Regions from separate parts of the Homo sapiens genome. Here region 1 is linked to region 2. Evidence: fine-mapped expression QTL. Tissue or cell type: whole blood. Region 2 holds a variant in brackets; the other region holds the start of a gene. All regions are shown on one strand. Distances are between the middles of the regions.

The links. PIP is the estimated chance that this variant, and not a neighbour inherited with it, causes the effect. A credible set is the group of variants that fine-mapping cannot tell apart.
Region 1: CD1E starts here. The variant in region 2 is the best candidate, but not a certain one, in a credible set for the expression of CD1E in whole blood (INTERVAL, PIP 0.79).

The regions. Positions count from the first base shown.
Region 1 is chr1:158,348,929-158,356,928 of GRCh38, forward strand. It overlaps CD1E (CD1e molecule), which reads left to right and starts at 4,966. Exons shown (of 6, transcript NM_030893.4): 1 at 4,966-5,118; 2 at 5,449-5,745; 3 at 6,372-6,641; 4 at 6,899-7,177; 5 at 7,570-7,663; 6 at 7,800-8,000. The coding sequence starts at 5,061. The coding sequence ends at 7,968.
Region 2 is chr1:158,324,505-158,332,860 of GRCh38, forward strand. CD1B (CD1b molecule) reads right to left here and starts at 7,027. Exons shown (of 6, transcript NM_001764.3): 1 at 6,859-7,027; 2 at 6,292-6,558; 3 at 5,348-5,626; 4 at 4,866-5,144; 5 at 4,417-4,510; 6 at 3,451-3,753. The coding sequence starts at 6,919. The coding sequence ends at 3,732. The variant G/A (reference allele first, on the strand shown) is at 4,063.

The DNA of each region.
Region 1 (8,000 bases), 24 kb after region 2:
TAGTGGATCCTGCACTGGGGCTGCAGATGGAGCTGCCTGCCAGTCCCCCGCCGTGAACCCGCACTCCTCAGCCCTTGGGTGGTTGATGGGACTGGGCGCCGTGGAGCAGGGGGCTGCGCTCATCGGGGAGGCTCCGGCCGCACAGGAGCCCATGGAGGGGGTGGGAGTCTCAGGCATGGCGGGCTGCAGGTCCCGAGCCCTGCCCCACGGGGAGGCAGCTAAGGCCTGGTGAGAAATCAAGCACAGCGCTGGTGGGCTGGCACTGCTGGGGGATCCAGTACACCCTCCGCAGCCGCTGGCCCGGGTGCTAAGTCTCTCATTGCTCGGGGCCGGCAGGGCCGGCTGGCTGCTCCGAGTGCAGGCCCGCCAAGCCCACGCCCACCCTGCACTCCAGCTGGAACCGCCCGCAGCCCAGGTTCCCGCTCGCGCCTCTCCCTCCACACCTCCCTGCAAGCTGAGGGAGCCGGCTCCGGCCTTGGCCAGCCCAGAAAGGGGCTCCTACAGTGCAGCGGCGGGCTGAAAGGCTTCTCAAGTGCTGCCAAAGTGGGAGCCCAGGCAGAGGAGGCACCGAGAGCAAGCAAGGTCTGTGAGGACTGCCAGCACGCTGTCACCTCTCAATGCCACTGCACTCCAGCCTGGGTGACAGAGTGAGAATCCGTCTCAAAAAGAAAAAAAAAAGAAAAAATGTAACTATGTGAAGTGATGGATATGGTAATAACTTGACTGTGGCGATTACTTCACAGTATATACATATATCATAACATCATGTTGTGCACCTTAAGTATACCCAATTTAAAAAAAATTAAGGTAGAATATAAATATATAATTTATCATCTTCACCATTTTAAAATGTACAGCTCAGTGGCAATAAATACTTTTTTATACTCAATTTTTATTTGTTGGTTGTACCTCACTAAAGCTGAAAAATATATTTGAATAAATGTTAAAGAAATGTAAGTATACACAAACAAGAAAATAAGTATGTAGAAATTGCAATCTTTCCTGAAAATAAGCCAAAAGAATAAAACTCGTATTTAAATTCTTTGAAAAAAAATTAGCAGATGGAACATTTTCTTACATTTGTACAAATGTACTCAAAAATTTTATTTTAAATCAATTTTAATGAGTTATCTCCCATAAATTTCTTACATAGAAAGATTAAGTTGTCCAAAGGCACATCTTATAATATGTTTTGAGAGAATTTTCTGGTTTTGGCAAAAGGGGATCTGCGAATGTGACTGGGGCAGCCTCAGGAAAACATAAGAGGGGGAATTTCTTTTTAAAAGAGACCTCTGGCCACAGACACTAAGTATTTTTAGTAAAAAATGTGGTTAGGCACTGATGGAATATTTTTTTTTTTTTTTTTTTTGAGACGGAGTCTTTCTCTGTTGCCCAGGCTGGAGTGCAGTGGCACAATCTTGGCTCACTGCAACCTCTGCCTCCCAGGTTCAAGCGATTCTCTTGCCTCAGCTTCTCGAATAGCTGGGACCATAGGCACGTGCCACCACGCCCTGCTAATTTTTTTGTATTTTTAGTAGAGAGGGGTTTCACCGTGTTAGCCAGGATGGTCTCGATCTCCTGACCTCCTGATCTGCCTGCCTCGGCCTCCCAAAGTGCTGGGATTACAGGAGTGAGCCACTGTGCCTGGCCCACTGATGGAATTTTGTAAAGCAGGAAGGAAATAATTGTACCATATAATGTTACAAAAATTAAAATTAATATATATTTTTTCTTTGGAATTTATCTTCTGGATAATTTTAATTTAGAAGGAATTTCATTATTTTGTTAATGATTATGGGGTTGCTGTCAGACATTATTTCTACTTTGCTCAGTAATTTGCAGTTATCTGTGAGTTCTGTAGCCTCAAAATTAAAAACTAGGGTGTGGTTATCTTTACTTACATAAAAGTGCAATTTTTTGTGGAATAACAACATTGTTTTATTCTCTAAATATACTTTGCTTTATTTTACTTTGCAAATGATTTTAAAATTCTCCCTCTTTTTTTTTTTTTTGAAACAGAGTCACACTCTCCTGCCCAGGATGTAGTACAGTGGCACAATCTCAGTTCCCTGCAATCTCCACCTCCTAGGCTCAAGCAATTCTCCTGCCTCAGCCTCCTGAGTAGCTGGAATTACAGGCACACATCATGGCACCTGGCTAATTTTTACTTTTTTTGGTAGAGACAGGGTTTCGCCATGTTGGCAAGGCTGGTCTCGAATTCGCCTGCCTTGGCTTCCCAAAGTGCTGGGATTACGGGTGTGAGCCACCGTGCCTGGCCTGATTCAAAAATTCTAATGGCCGGGGCACGGTTGCTCACGCCTGTAATCTCAGCACTTTGGGAGGCCGAGGCGGGTGGATCACGAGGTCAGGAGATCGAGACCGTCTTGGTCAACATGAAGAAACCCTGTCTCTACTAAAAATACAAAAAATAGATGGTCATGGTGGCTCTTGCCTGTAATCCCAGCTGCTCAGGAGGCTGAGGCAGGAGAGTCGTTTGAACCAGGGATTCGGGGGTTGCAATGAGCCGAGATCCTGTGGCTGCACTGCAGCCTGGGCAACAGAGCAAGACAGCAAGACTCCGTCTCAGGAAAAAACAAAACAAAACAAAAATTCTAAGGAATACAGTTACTTGTAGTATTGATGTTTGGCATAGGTCATTCCAATCTTTTTATTATGTATTATTGTTTTTGTAGGTTATTATATATTCTCTTGAATATTTATCTTTGTTTACTGTTCATAATTTTATTATGAAACCAATTTTGGATTTACATAGCGATTTATAGATAGATTTACATAGCAACTTATAGCTTTGAATGTATTTGTAGAAAAGAAAGAGTATTGAAAATAAATGTAGACATTCTACTCAGGAAACAAGGAAACTTTTTTTAATCTTTCTTTAACCTTAGAATTTAGAAATGATAATAAGATGAAACTAGGTTTGGACCTTTTTCTTTTGTTTTTTTGTTTGCAGTTTTTTTTTCTTTTTTTAATTATTTTTATTTATTTATTTATTTTTTATTATTATACTTTAAGTTCTAGGGTACATGTGCACAACGTGAAGGTTTGTTACATATGTATACATGTGTCGTGTTGGTGTGCTGCACCCATTAACTCGTCATTTACATTAGGTATATCTCTTAATGCTATCCCTCCCCCCTCCCCCCACCCCACAACAGGCCCCGGTGTGTGATGTTCCTCTTCCTGTGTCCATGTGTTCTCATTGTTCAATTCCCACCTATGAGTGAGAACATGCGGTGTTTGGTTTTTTGTCCTTGTGATAGTTTGCTGAGAATGATGGTTTCCAGCTTCATCCATGTCCCTACAAAGGACATGAACTCATCATTTTTTATGGCTGCATAGTATTTCATGGTGTATATGTGCCACATTTTCTTAATCCAGTCTATCATTGTTGGACATTTGGGTTGGTTCCAAGTCTTTGTTATTGTGAATAGTGCCACAATAAACATACGTGTGCATGTGTCTTTATAGCAACATGATTTATAATCCTTTGTGTATATACCCAGTAATGGGATGGCTGGGTCAAATGGTATTTCTAGTTCTAGATCCCTGAGGAATCGCCACCCTGACTTCCACAATGGTTGAACTAGTTTACAGTCCCACCAACAGTGTAAAAGTGTTCCTATTTCTCCACATCCTCTCCAGCACCTCTCCAGCACAGAAAGAGTATTGAAAATAAATGTAGATATTCTACTCAGGAAACAAGGAAACTTTTTATCTTTCTTTTAACTTAGAATTTAGAAATGATAATAAGATGAAACTAGGTTTGGACCTTTTTCAATAATTCTGACCACCGTTCAGTAAATTTACTGTATAAGAAAAGTAGAGGTTTGGGGTTGAATTTTGTTTTATTTTTTCCCAAAGATGTCTATCTCTGATATCTTAGGGCCTGGCAATTGTTTTTGGTCATAGGTGGGCTCTGAATAAATGTCAGTTGAACAAATATATAAAAACCAAACAAAGGAATGTTATTTCAACTGCCTTCAGAGTGTCACAACAAATATCAATGAAAAAGAAACAAAAATAAAGACTCAATTAATTCTCCAGTGAACACTTCAGTCCTCTAAAGGTACTTCCCTGTGTCCACCCAAACTGCTCTCTAACCGAACGCAAGCAAGGGGACTCCAATGCTCTCAGGCCATGAACTAATGAGGAGCTTCATGCCTGCCCTCAGTCTTTCTTCATACCCAGGGCAAAGCTGGCCCACAGACTTCCAGACATGCTTTCTTCGTTTGGGTAGAGATGGGGATCCAAGTCCCCTATGTATTTCCTCCAGAGCCACCTGTAAAACATGGGTGAAATCTACCTGCCCTCTAGCTCACCACTTCCAGGTCAAGCCCACTCATGGACCACTTTAACAGTGACAGTTGGCTTGACTGGGGAAACTGAAAAAAAGGAGCTTTCTTTAGATTTTCTGATAATCTGCATTGCCATTGCTGCTCCTTTTTCAGCAGCACAGAGAGTTGGATTATGGAGGGTTGCCTGCTTATTATGCAGCTACATCCAGGATGCTGAGTGTCTTCTGATCATGATCAAGAGCAGAGTGAAGAGATACAGGCGGAGGAGAGGATCACAGAGAGGTAGAAGTGGGAGACTGGTGGATAGGTCACTAGGCACCACTGAGTGACTACCATCACTTCTCACAGATTAGATTATTGACAAGCCAAGTATGGATTTGATTTCTACAAGGCCAAAAGCTACTCCATCTTCTAGCCAGACCACAGACTTTGTTTTAAGCCAGGACTCGTTTTCCAGCAGTTAGTGCAATTAGGGAGGTTGGGAGGATGTACACAAGAGCAGGGAGAAAATCTGGAGCCAGACAGTGAGAGAGGCAGAGGGGAAATGAAAAACCCCGTGGGAGGCTGCAGCAAAGCGAGGCAGTGTGGCTTCTCTGACAGGGAAGTCAGCAGAGGGAGAGGTTTGTCTGTCTGTACAGCAAGGGAAGTCAGACGAGAGTGCAAGAGGGTGTGGAGAGGGGTACTGATATCTGAATTATTAGGGCAGGTGTCCTGCCAAGGAATCCCTCCTTTAACAGAGCTTCAATGCTGCTCCTGTTCCTCCTCTTCGAGGGTCTCTGCTGTCCTGGGGAAAATACAGCAGGTAAGAAGAGTGCAGGTGGAAAGATACCTATGGTAGGGCACCAGAGGGCTGAGAGGAAGCTCTGGGGAGGTCCTGGGGGAAGGGAGCAGTACTCTTCTAGGATGCCCTTGGAATATGCCTTTCAGGCTAGTTCCAGGCAGAGAATTCTTGCTCTCAGTCTCAGTTTTTGTCTCTGATTTTGGAGAAAGGAAGCTGGCCCCACAGGAAAAGGGTATTGGAGTATGTACAAGCTACCTAACTGTCTCTCATCTCTGGGTTCCTTTTTTCCCTTTGGCATCACTTTTCCCATCCCTTTACATTCTCTCTACTTGTCATTTCCCTCTCTCTCAGCTCCCCAGGCTCTACAATCCTATCATCTAGCAGCAGAGGAGCAGCTGTCCTTCCGCATGCTCCAAACTTCCTCCTTTGCCAACCACAGCTGGGCACACAGTGAGGGCTCAGGATGGCTGGGTGACCTGCAGACTCATGGCTGGGACACTGTCTTGGGCACCATCCGCTTTCTGAAGCCCTGGTCCCATGGAAACTTCAGCAAGCAGGAGCTGAAAAACTTACAGTCACTGTTCCAGTTATACTTCCATAGTTTTATCCAGATAGTGCAAGCTTCTGCTGGTCAATTTCAGCTTGAATGTAAGTTCGTTGCTCTAAGCTGATAATTTGCCTGGGAACACCAACTATTTTCCAAAGTGGAAGATAGTATATAGACTCTGACCATCATTTAACCTTACTAACCTTGTTCCCCACTCTCTGACTCCCACTCCCTCCTCTGCTTCACCCTTCACCACCACCCACACTCCACCATATACACAAAAGGGCCTGCATGTACATATCTCAACATGAATATAGCTTCATGTCTGGCTCTTTGGAATGATTGTCTCCTCTGGATCTTCTGCCCCTCATTCCTGCCCTCAGACTCAGCCTTTCTCAACCCTCTTTCTGCCCTTCTTTATCCTTTGCCTGAGTGTTGACATGGACTGGCCTGTACCTAACCACTTTCACGTGAATTATTTATGACCAATCTCCTATCTTCCTGATAGCCTTCCCATCTACCACTTTCCCATTAGTTATTTCAAAGTATCTTTATTATCTTCAAATTTTCTTCCCACAAATTTTCTTCCCCTTTGCCAGTAAACTCTAGTCTCCATATGATTTCCCAGCAAATTTTTCTTCCCTTGAATCTCTTTACTGTCTAAATTGTTTGTTTTTCTTCCTTGTCATTCTTTCCATAATGATCTCTCTTCCCTGTCCACTCTCAGACCCCTTCGAGATCCAGATATTAGCTGGCTGTAGAATGAATGCCCCACAAATCTTCTTAAATATGGCATATCAAGGGTCAGATTTCCTGAGTTTCCAAGGAATTTCCTGGGAGCCATCTCCAGGAGCAGGGATCCGGGCCCAGAACATCTGTAAAGTGCTCAATCGCTACCTAGATATTAAGGAAATACTGCAAAGCCTTCTTGGTCACACCTGCCCTCGATTTCTAGCGGGGCTCATGGAAGCAGGGGAGTCAGAACTGAAACGGAAAGGTGAGCCCAACTCTCTCTCTCCCCTCTTGTTCCTAGTACTATAACTCTCATATTTGAATTTGCCTCTCATCATCATTTTGAAAGACATAGTGAGAGACTAGAGAATGAGATGTGTGGGTTCAGGACTGTTTCTTAGACAAGAGAAAGAAGTGATTACTAAATCACTCTTAGTATTATTACAAAGGCACCTGAGTCTCTGAGCTCTGGCCTGGGGTGCCCTTCAAAATTCCATTTTTTTTCTATCTTCTTCTTCCTAGTGAAGCCAGAGGCCTGGCTGTCCTGTGGCCCCAGTCCTGGCCCTGGCCGTCTGCAGCTTGTGTGCCATGTCTCAGGATTCTACCCAAAGCCCGTGTGGGTGATGTGGATGCGGGGTGAGCAGGAGCAGCGGGGCACTCAGCGAGGGGACGTCCTGCCTAATGCTGACGAGACATGGTATCTCCGAGCAACCCTGGATGTGGCGGCTGGGGAGGCAGCTGGCCTGTCCTGTCGGGTGAAACACAGCAGTCTAGGGGGCCATGATCTAATCATCCATTGGGGTGAGAAACAGCTGAGGCTCTGCTGGGAAATAATGAAAATAGCCCTGGGGCTTTTGAGTGTGGGGCTGAGGAAATGGGTAGGAATGCTAGGTACAAGAAGGGTAAAACTGGGACAATCAAAATAAAGAAGGATAGAGTATGACAGTAGTTAAATTTTAAGAAAATGGAAGTAGAGAATTAGACATACTAACAGAAAAAGGAGGAGGAACTAGTGATTTAGTGGGAGAGGGTTGGGAGGAGATCACAGACAAAGGATCAGGAGGAATTGAAATGAGGGCTTTGGAAAACCCAGATGAAAATTCTAGGAAGGTCCCACCCTTGTGAAATGGGAAATCTCAGCTTGGTGGAATAGAGTATTTTAGGGTTGGTATTCTTATTCTATCCCCAACCAGGTGGATATTCCATCTTTCTCATCCTGATCTGTTTGACTGTGATAGTTACCCTGGTCATATTGGTTGTAGTTGACTCACGGTTAAAAAAACAGAGGTGAGCTTTTTCTTGTTCTTTGTTTCTTCAGCCTGTAATCAATTCATTCCTTTTTCCTCTATCTTCTTTTTTTTTTTCTCTGCCTTTCCCCTTTATTTCCTTTCTTTGAGATTAATATCCTCCTCTTTTCCCACAGTTCAAATAAGAACATTCTTTCTCCCCACACACCCAGCCCTGTCTTTCTCATGGGAGCCAACACTCAGGACACCAAGAATTCAAGACATCAGTTCTGCTTGGCACAAGTATCGTGGATCAAAAACAGAGTATTGAAGAAGTGGAAGACACGCCTAAACCAACTCTGGTGACATTTGCTTTACCTTATACATAAAATCCTTGT
Region 2 (8,356 bases):
TTACATTGATTCATCGGAAACCAAGATTTTCCGTGTGGGAGAAAAGAGAAGTAGAAGTGAGACTGATGAGTTAAACACATAGTTTTGAATTTGAAGTGAAAGTGTAAATATGAGCTTGTGATGATATTTATCCTCAAAAAAATTTCCACAGGCTAATTTTTTTTTAGGTTTTCCCCCTTAGAAGGCCTAGAAACTAGGATTAACCCAGTAATTTCCGTATCACATTTTTTCCAACTAACAAGGACCAGAGATCCTTGCTAATTTCTAGTGTAGGGCAAGAAGTTTCGGCAAGAACCTTGAGCAACTTTGCCACATCAGGAAGTAATACAGTCTTGATGACAGAGGTGTATTGATGGAGCTCAGGAAGAATTGACTTGAAAAGAATCTCATTGTCACAGATAGGACAATTTGAGCTTCAATAAAACAACTACTATGATAGATACAAGCATTTCAAATAAGCTGAAATTCATGAGTATACAATTATGCAAAAAAATATTGATCACTTGTGGAGAATGCCATATAAAGCATTCATTCTCTTGAGAACGGGCAAATAAATAGAAAGAATAACTATCTTATTACCTTGATTCCATCAAGGTAATAAGATAGTTACTGAAGATAATGTCTCTTTAGGAATATTCTAAGTAATAAGTGAAGAATGTTTAATATATTTTTCTTTCACCCCTAGGCCATTCATTCATAAGATATGACCCAGGGCACTTTGAGGTCCCTGACTCCTTTTCTGAGGGTCCATAGTTCCCAATAAATCCTAACAATACTACCAGGTTAAATTTTTAATTCTATTCTTCTCATGATTTTATGTTGTTCTCCAGAGACTACATGGAATATGATATTGCATCAGATTGGATGCCAAAGCAGATATGAAAATGTAGCTGTTTTCTTATTAAGCCAGACATTAAAGAGAATTGCCAAAATACTAAATAAATAAATAAATAGATGCAGCTGTAAAGCCACGCTTCTCACTACATTTTTGAAAAACATTTAAAAATAAAGATGTAATTTTTGTTGATATGTAATCCATGTTTAATTGTAGAGAAGTTTATAAATATTTTAATTATTAGTTTATTAGTTTTTACTTCTAAGATATATCTAGCTATCTGTCTGGACATACATTTTATACACACACACACACACACACACACGCACACACACAATTTCCATCACACAGAGAAAAGCTTTTCTGGTGATCTCAATCTTTTTTTATTGTGGTAAAATACACATATATAAGATTTACCATTTTGCCATTTTTAAGTGTACAATTCTGTGTTATTAAGTACATTCACACTGTTGTGCCACCTTCAATATAACTTGTACATATGTAAAATGTGTAAGAGTTGAGACCTATTAATCTAGTAATGAATGAAGACCATTAAGCATTATATGCCTCTTGTGAGATATACATAGTATAATAAAACCTGAATCTGAGCACATCACAAATCTATTTATTTATTTTTTATTTTTTCTTGAGACGGAGTCTTGCTCTGTTGCCCAAGCTGGAGTGCAGTGGCGCGATCTCGGCTCACTGCAAGCTCCGCCTCCCGGGTTCATGCCATTCTCCTGCCTCAGCCTCCCTGAGTAGCTGGGACTACAGGTGCCCACCATCATGCCCGGCTAATTTTTTTTGTAGTTTTAGTAGAGATGGGGTTTCACCGTGTTAGCCAGGATGGTCTCAATCAACTGACCTCGTGATCCGCCCGCCTCGGCCTCCCAAAGTGCTGGGATTACAGGCGTGAGCCACCATGCCCGGCCCACAAATCTATTTATATATAGTAAATAAAGAGAACAAAGGGGCATGTTAAATGACATTATAGCTATGTAATCAGCAAAATCCAAACTGTGGATGATTTTACAAGAAGAATGATGAAATTTCTTAAAAAACAAATTCTAGGATAAAAATGAGAGAAGAATCCTACAGATTAAAAACGGTTTATGAAACATCAACTAATTTTAATGCATGAATCTTATTTTTATTCCAATTTAATGAATAAACTGTAAAAACAATTCATGAGACAATTGGAAAAAATTTGAATGCTGAACAACTATATATTTAATGATATTAAGAAATCTTTTATTTGGGGATGTCATAATGTAATTTCGGCTATATGTTAAAAAAGTCTATATGTTACAGAAAGACATGTTGAAATAGTTAAGGATGAAATGATACAATATCTAAAATTTATTTTAATCATGAGTTGATAATTTTTTCAAAACTGTCTAATGAGCAAAGGATAGTTTTTATACTGCTTTATGTTTGCACATATAAAATTATTATTATTATTATTATTATTTTTGGAGACAGGGTCTTGCTCTGTCACCCAGGCTGGAGTGCAGTGGCACAATCTTGGCTCACTGCAACCTCCACTTGCTGGGTTCAAGTGATTCTCCTGCCTCAGCCTTCCAAGTAGCTGGGACTACAGCCATGCACCACCATGCCCGGCTAATTTTTGTATTTTTAGTAGAGACAGATTTTTGCCATGTTGGTCAGCCTGGTCTCAAACTCCTGACCTCAGGTGATCCACCTGCCTCGGCCTCCCAAAGTGCTGGGATTACAGGCGTGAGCCACCACGCTTGGCCCCTATAAAATTATTAATTAATGGACCAGCGCTGGCTGGTCCATTTTACAGAGTGCAGATTGGTCTATTTTACAGAGCACTGATTGGTGCATTTTACAAACCTCTTGCTAGCTACAGAGCACTGATTGGTGTGTTTTTACAGAGCATTGATTGGTGCATTTTACAAAACTCTTGCTAGCTACAGAAAAGTTATAGGAGTCCCCACTCAACCCAGGGAGTGCAGCTGGCTTCACCTCTCACTATGACCCTTTAAAAGCTAGACTATAGCTGTAGTAAGCCAAGGGTGGTTTTCTCCAAAGGAGTTTGGAACAGAAATAAAGAAAACATAATATTTTTTGGCTAAGTGGAAACTATTTTAGCAAGATGAGGAGAATCTACAATATCAACTAAAAAGAAAAAAAAATGGAAGAAAGTAGATGACTCTGAAAGAAAACACTTAACTTGGCAGTTACAGCAACTCAGATAGTTTTTACTGAGAAAATGAATTTGCAGCTAAGAGATCTTGCCAGAGATCTACAAATAGGGAACACTGTCCTCAAGGAACTTACAAAGAGAAGGGGAGGAAAAACAAAAATAACTCCAATGCTGTGAGTAAAGTGTAAAGTGGATCTCTGCATAGTTCCTTTTATTATAGCACTAGGAAAGTCTTCCTGAGGAAGAAACATCTCAGCTGAGCCTTCAGGGCTAGAAATTCATCCAGGCAGAGACAGAGAAGAAATTACATCCAAAAGGCTCTGCATCTCTGCAAATACAGTGATTCTGGCATAATTATATTTGGTTTTCTTTGACAAATGATATTTAACCAGAAGCAGAAAAAGAAAAGTTTTAAATTAGGAAGCCAAAGGGAGTCACCATTAAGTCATATGTATTATATTTCATTTATTTTGAGACACATTTTTTCTAACATTTTAATGTGTGTAAAATCAGGGTGAATCACACTGTTAGTACAGTCTCATAATAAATTTACAGTTTTAAGTACTTTTTTGCTGATGTTTAAATAATAATTTATTTTAAAATACATGAAAACTCTGATTTCATCAAATTTGAAAATCATTTGAAATATGATAAGATTGACTTTTGGGCTGATATCTTGGGCTTCTTGGTACTTATTGCGAATGGGAGAGGAGACATGATGATGGCTCATGGGATATTCTGATATGACCTGTTAAAAACAGAAGAACAAAAGAGCTCCACATAAAAGATGTTTGTACACCCATGCTCATAGTAATATTATTCATGATAGTTAAAAGTGAAAGCAACCCAAGTGTCCATAGATAGACGAATGGATGAACAAAATGTGTTATACGCATATGGTGGAATATTGTTCAGTTTCAAAAAAGGAAGGAAGCCCTTTCATATGCTACAATGAGGATATTACGCTAAATGAAATAAGTCACAAAAAGACAAATATTTACAATTCCACTTATATAAGGTACCTAGAATAGTAGAATTCATAGAGACAGAATGTAGA[G/A]CTGTCCTAACCAGGGCCTGGAGAAGAGGGGAAATGGGAACTTGCAGCGTAATAGGAATAGAGTTTCAGTCTTGCAAGACAGAAGAGTTTTGAAGATTGCTTGCACAACAATGTGAACACACTTAACACCACTGAACTGTACACTTAAAAATGGTAAAGATGGTAAACCTTATGTTATGTGTATTTTAACAGAATTTTTTTTAAGTCCACATAAAACGAATGGGAGTTTGGGGAAAGGATATGGTGAAAGGATTGAGGATAAACAATTTTTAAATAGATAAAATGGTAAAAAACAGTGGAAGGGTGAACAGAAAAGACATATTAAAAAAAAAAACAACACCACCCACAACTCACCGGCGCCTCATATACCATAATGCAAGGCATAGCAAAAGGAGCAAGGAAGGCACTATTATTGCCAAAACAATTGAGCCAATGGAGGTGGGGTTTCCTGGCAATTGAGAGAGGACAAAAGGATGTCACTTCAGATACTATACACAGAATTCCTTGGCCTTCCTTTGCCCACCTACTTCCAATGTATGGTCATTTCCAACTTCCTCTCTCATATTCCTGGCCACCATATATCCATCCTTTGATCCCCTCTACCCAGTTTACAGGTCCTTAATTCCTACATTTTTGATAACTTGGATTATCTATTTTTACTCCTGTTGGGATTGGGGTCAGGGAAATCAATCAATCAATCTCTCCCTCTTTCATCTCTCAAGCTCTATCCTTCCCCAGTGCCTCCCTCTATGCCTGAAGATCACTTCCTGGCATTTCCAGCCTGGGTCCCTGCTATTTCTTACTCCAGTAGAGGATGATGTCCTGGCCCTCTAAACTGCTGTGCTTCACCCGACAGGACAGGCCAGCCGCCTCCCCATCTGCCACATCCAGGGTTGCTCGGAGATACCATGTCCAGTTAGCATTGGGCAGGATGTCCCCTAGCTGAGTGCCCTGCTGCTCCTGCTCACCCCGCATCCACATCACCCACACGGGCTTTGGGTAGAATCCTGAGACATGGCACACAAGCTGCAGACGGCCAGGTCCAGGACTGGGGCCACTGGACAGCCAGGCCTCAGGCTTCACTAAGGCAGGAAGGAGAAAAAAAAGTGTCATGTTATAACTCGAGTTCAGAGGTTATGAACTCAGAAACCTACAAGCTTGGACAGCGACCCCATTCACTCCTTTGGGAACCAAATAACTTGTTATTTAAGCTCCTATCCTTTGATATCTTCCTACTCTTGATCTTAGAGGAGGTGGTGGGAAGTGAAATAACAGCAGGACTAACCTTGTCTTTGCAGATCTGCTTTTCCTGCATTGAGGACGCCCAAGAGATATCGGGGGCAGGTTTCATAGAGGAGAATTCTCACAGTTTCCATGATACCTTGATATTGTATGATTAGTGCACAGAATTTCTGTGCCCTGCTGCCACCTTCTGGGGAAGGCACACATGAAGCATTCTTGACACTCAGGAAATCCAATCCTCCTAGAGCTCCCCTCAGGAAGCTTACTATGGCACCTCCAGAATGTAGCTCACAGCCTGCTATGCCCTGGATCTCAAAGGGGTCTATGTAGAGGGAAAAGAGAGCAAGTTATTAAACACAAATAAGAAAAAAAGGCATGAGAAAAGAACCTAGGATTTTAGATTTTGGTGGGGATAAAGTTATTTGGTGTAAAATGATGATGAGCTAAAAACTAATGATAACATTTAGACATTTTCAGAAACAAGAGCATTGAGAAAAATGTGCATGCCATGAAGACAAAGGTATGTGATAAAGGAGTACAGTGAGTATGAAAGGAGAGGTGAGGCAGAGCGTGGTGCAGTCAGGAGTGCAGCATTCCAGAGTGAGTGGAGGTTCCCAGCAAGAGGAGGGTGCGGGGAGGAGATGATTGAAAAGATGGATTAGGGGAGAAAGCCACACGTTAGATCACTCAGGCACAGGGTAGGAGAAGTAAGGGCCCTTGAGGAGAAGTTTCACATAAGACAAACCAGCAGCTGGTTACAAAGTGGAAGACAGTCTGAGAGTAAGAGAAGAGTGCAGAGGCAGCAAGAATCTGAAATATGAGGTGTGATGGTGTGAAGCTGGAGTGAGAGACTACTCAAGAAAAGCATGTGCGTGCATTTGGGTAAAATAGAAAGGAAGGGAGAAGCATCAGAGAGAGCAACACTTTGCAAAAAAGAGAGAAAAGAGAGTCCTTGAGACTCTTCCCAGTTCGGTGGACTAGACTCACATTTCATCTGGAAATCACCGGCAAAGTCTTGTACTTCTCGAGCGAATCCAAAGATGTAGACTCGGAATATCTCCTCTAACTCAGCAACCTCCTTATCACTAAAGTTACCTTTAGACCAAGGCTTCAGGAATATGGCAGTGCCTGAGTCGCTATCCCAGCCATGAATCTGCAAATCATCCAACCAGCCTGAGCCTTGAGTTTGTGCCCAGGTACTATTGGTAAAGGACGAGGTCTGGATAACATGAAAGGAGGTCGGCCCCTGGAAGGCTGTGAAGAGTGGAAAAGCAAGATGGTGAAGATAAAGAGAGAAGCAGGAGACAATTAGGAAGAATGGGAATGAAAATGATTTAGAAAACAAGAACCTAGAGTCTAAAGAACACAGGAAGTCTGACACATTTGACTGCCTTAAGGCTTCAGGTTCTAGTCCCAACCACCAGAATGGTTGAAGAGGGCGGGAGACAGAAAGACCCAGACCCTTAGTGTCCAATTGCACCTAGGAAAGCCCTGCTTGCTTTTTAAAATCCAAACCCCTGCACCAGTGCTGGGAGCTGCCAGAGTGACTCTTACCATGTTCACTGTTACCACCAGGAAAGAGAACAGCTAACAGTTGAAATGGCAGCAGCAGCATTTCACTGGGAGATGCAACTTCTTACTGGCAGAGCTGGTATTTGATCTCCAATTTCAGCAAAGCTTTTCCTCAGTACCCTGTAGTGACTTCTTCTCTCTTCCAACTGCCAAATCTCTTCCTCATCCAAACTGCTTTTCAGAGAAAAATGTGCCTCCCACAGCCCTGAGCCTCTTACCTCACCTTTTATTTCCCTCAAGCCCTGATTTTTAGAGTTTCTCTTACCCCCTGACTTCCAGCCGCTCTCCCTGTCCTCACCTTCCTTCATACCTCCTTGGAAAAGCCCCCATATGATTCTGCATTTTCATTTCTCCTTCCTTAGCCTTTATTCCCACATCTATAGGATAAGATGGTGATATTAAGCAATTGCTAAGCTTTTAGTCTGCTTTAACCCAGAAGGATGCTTTTAGTTTATCCACCTCACTTAGTTTCTCCCCCTCCCAGCTGCCTTATCTTCTCTGGCACTCTGTTACTGCCTCTTCCCAATGTTTTCAATGTCTTCTCTTTCTTATATTGCCCTCTTTGTCTGGTGTTCCTTACCCCACATTCTAAACTGGCTGTGAGTGTGTGTGTGTGTGTGTCTGTGTCTGTGTGTGTATGTGTATGTGTGTGTACCGATATTCACTTACATAAAGGCAAAGCATTTAAAACATTTCCTGTACTATAGCACTACAAACCAAAATGCCAGAATCAAATATAATAAAGACTGAAGTTTATAATTCAAACAAAATTATACTATAGCAATATTTGAGGGAAAAAATGACAATTGCTGCTAGCATGTGACCTTCTCTTCAGGAGCTCTTGGCCTATGGAGTTTTGAGTAACAAATATTCATGACATAAACAGAACTCTAGGAGCTATGCTATGTGCACCTCCAGCCTAAGTCAAAGATAACTTTTTGGGTAAGTTGCCATAAGCGGCAGAGCTTTTTTCTTCTCTTGTAATATCTCATAACTGCTGTCTACATTTGGGCATTCATATCACCACATGTGGTATTAATAATAGAGCAAAGAGGTTGCTTTTTTTTATACAAAAAGTTCAGAGATACTTGTTTTAAGATGTCACCTCCTATCTTCTTGTATGCCCATGAAAAATTTTAAGAAGAATTTTTGGATTTTCTCCATTTAGGAAAAAAATCACATATTTGCAGAGATCTATGTATCATGCAGAAATGTGGCAGCAATCGATTCCGAGTAAAGAGGGTTATCACTAACTAATTCTATTATGTGGATAAGAAAATGCAAAGTGAGTAGTGTAGTGTTCTCTATTCCTGGGGACACTACTGGTTCACAACATTAATAAGACTGGTTCACAACATTAATAAGACTAGCCTTCATCCAAGATTATTACTGCCTAATTGATAAATACAGAGCAGCTCTCCAAATTTCAATGTATGTATCTCTTAACAACATTCCCAGACTCCAATACATGACAGAATTG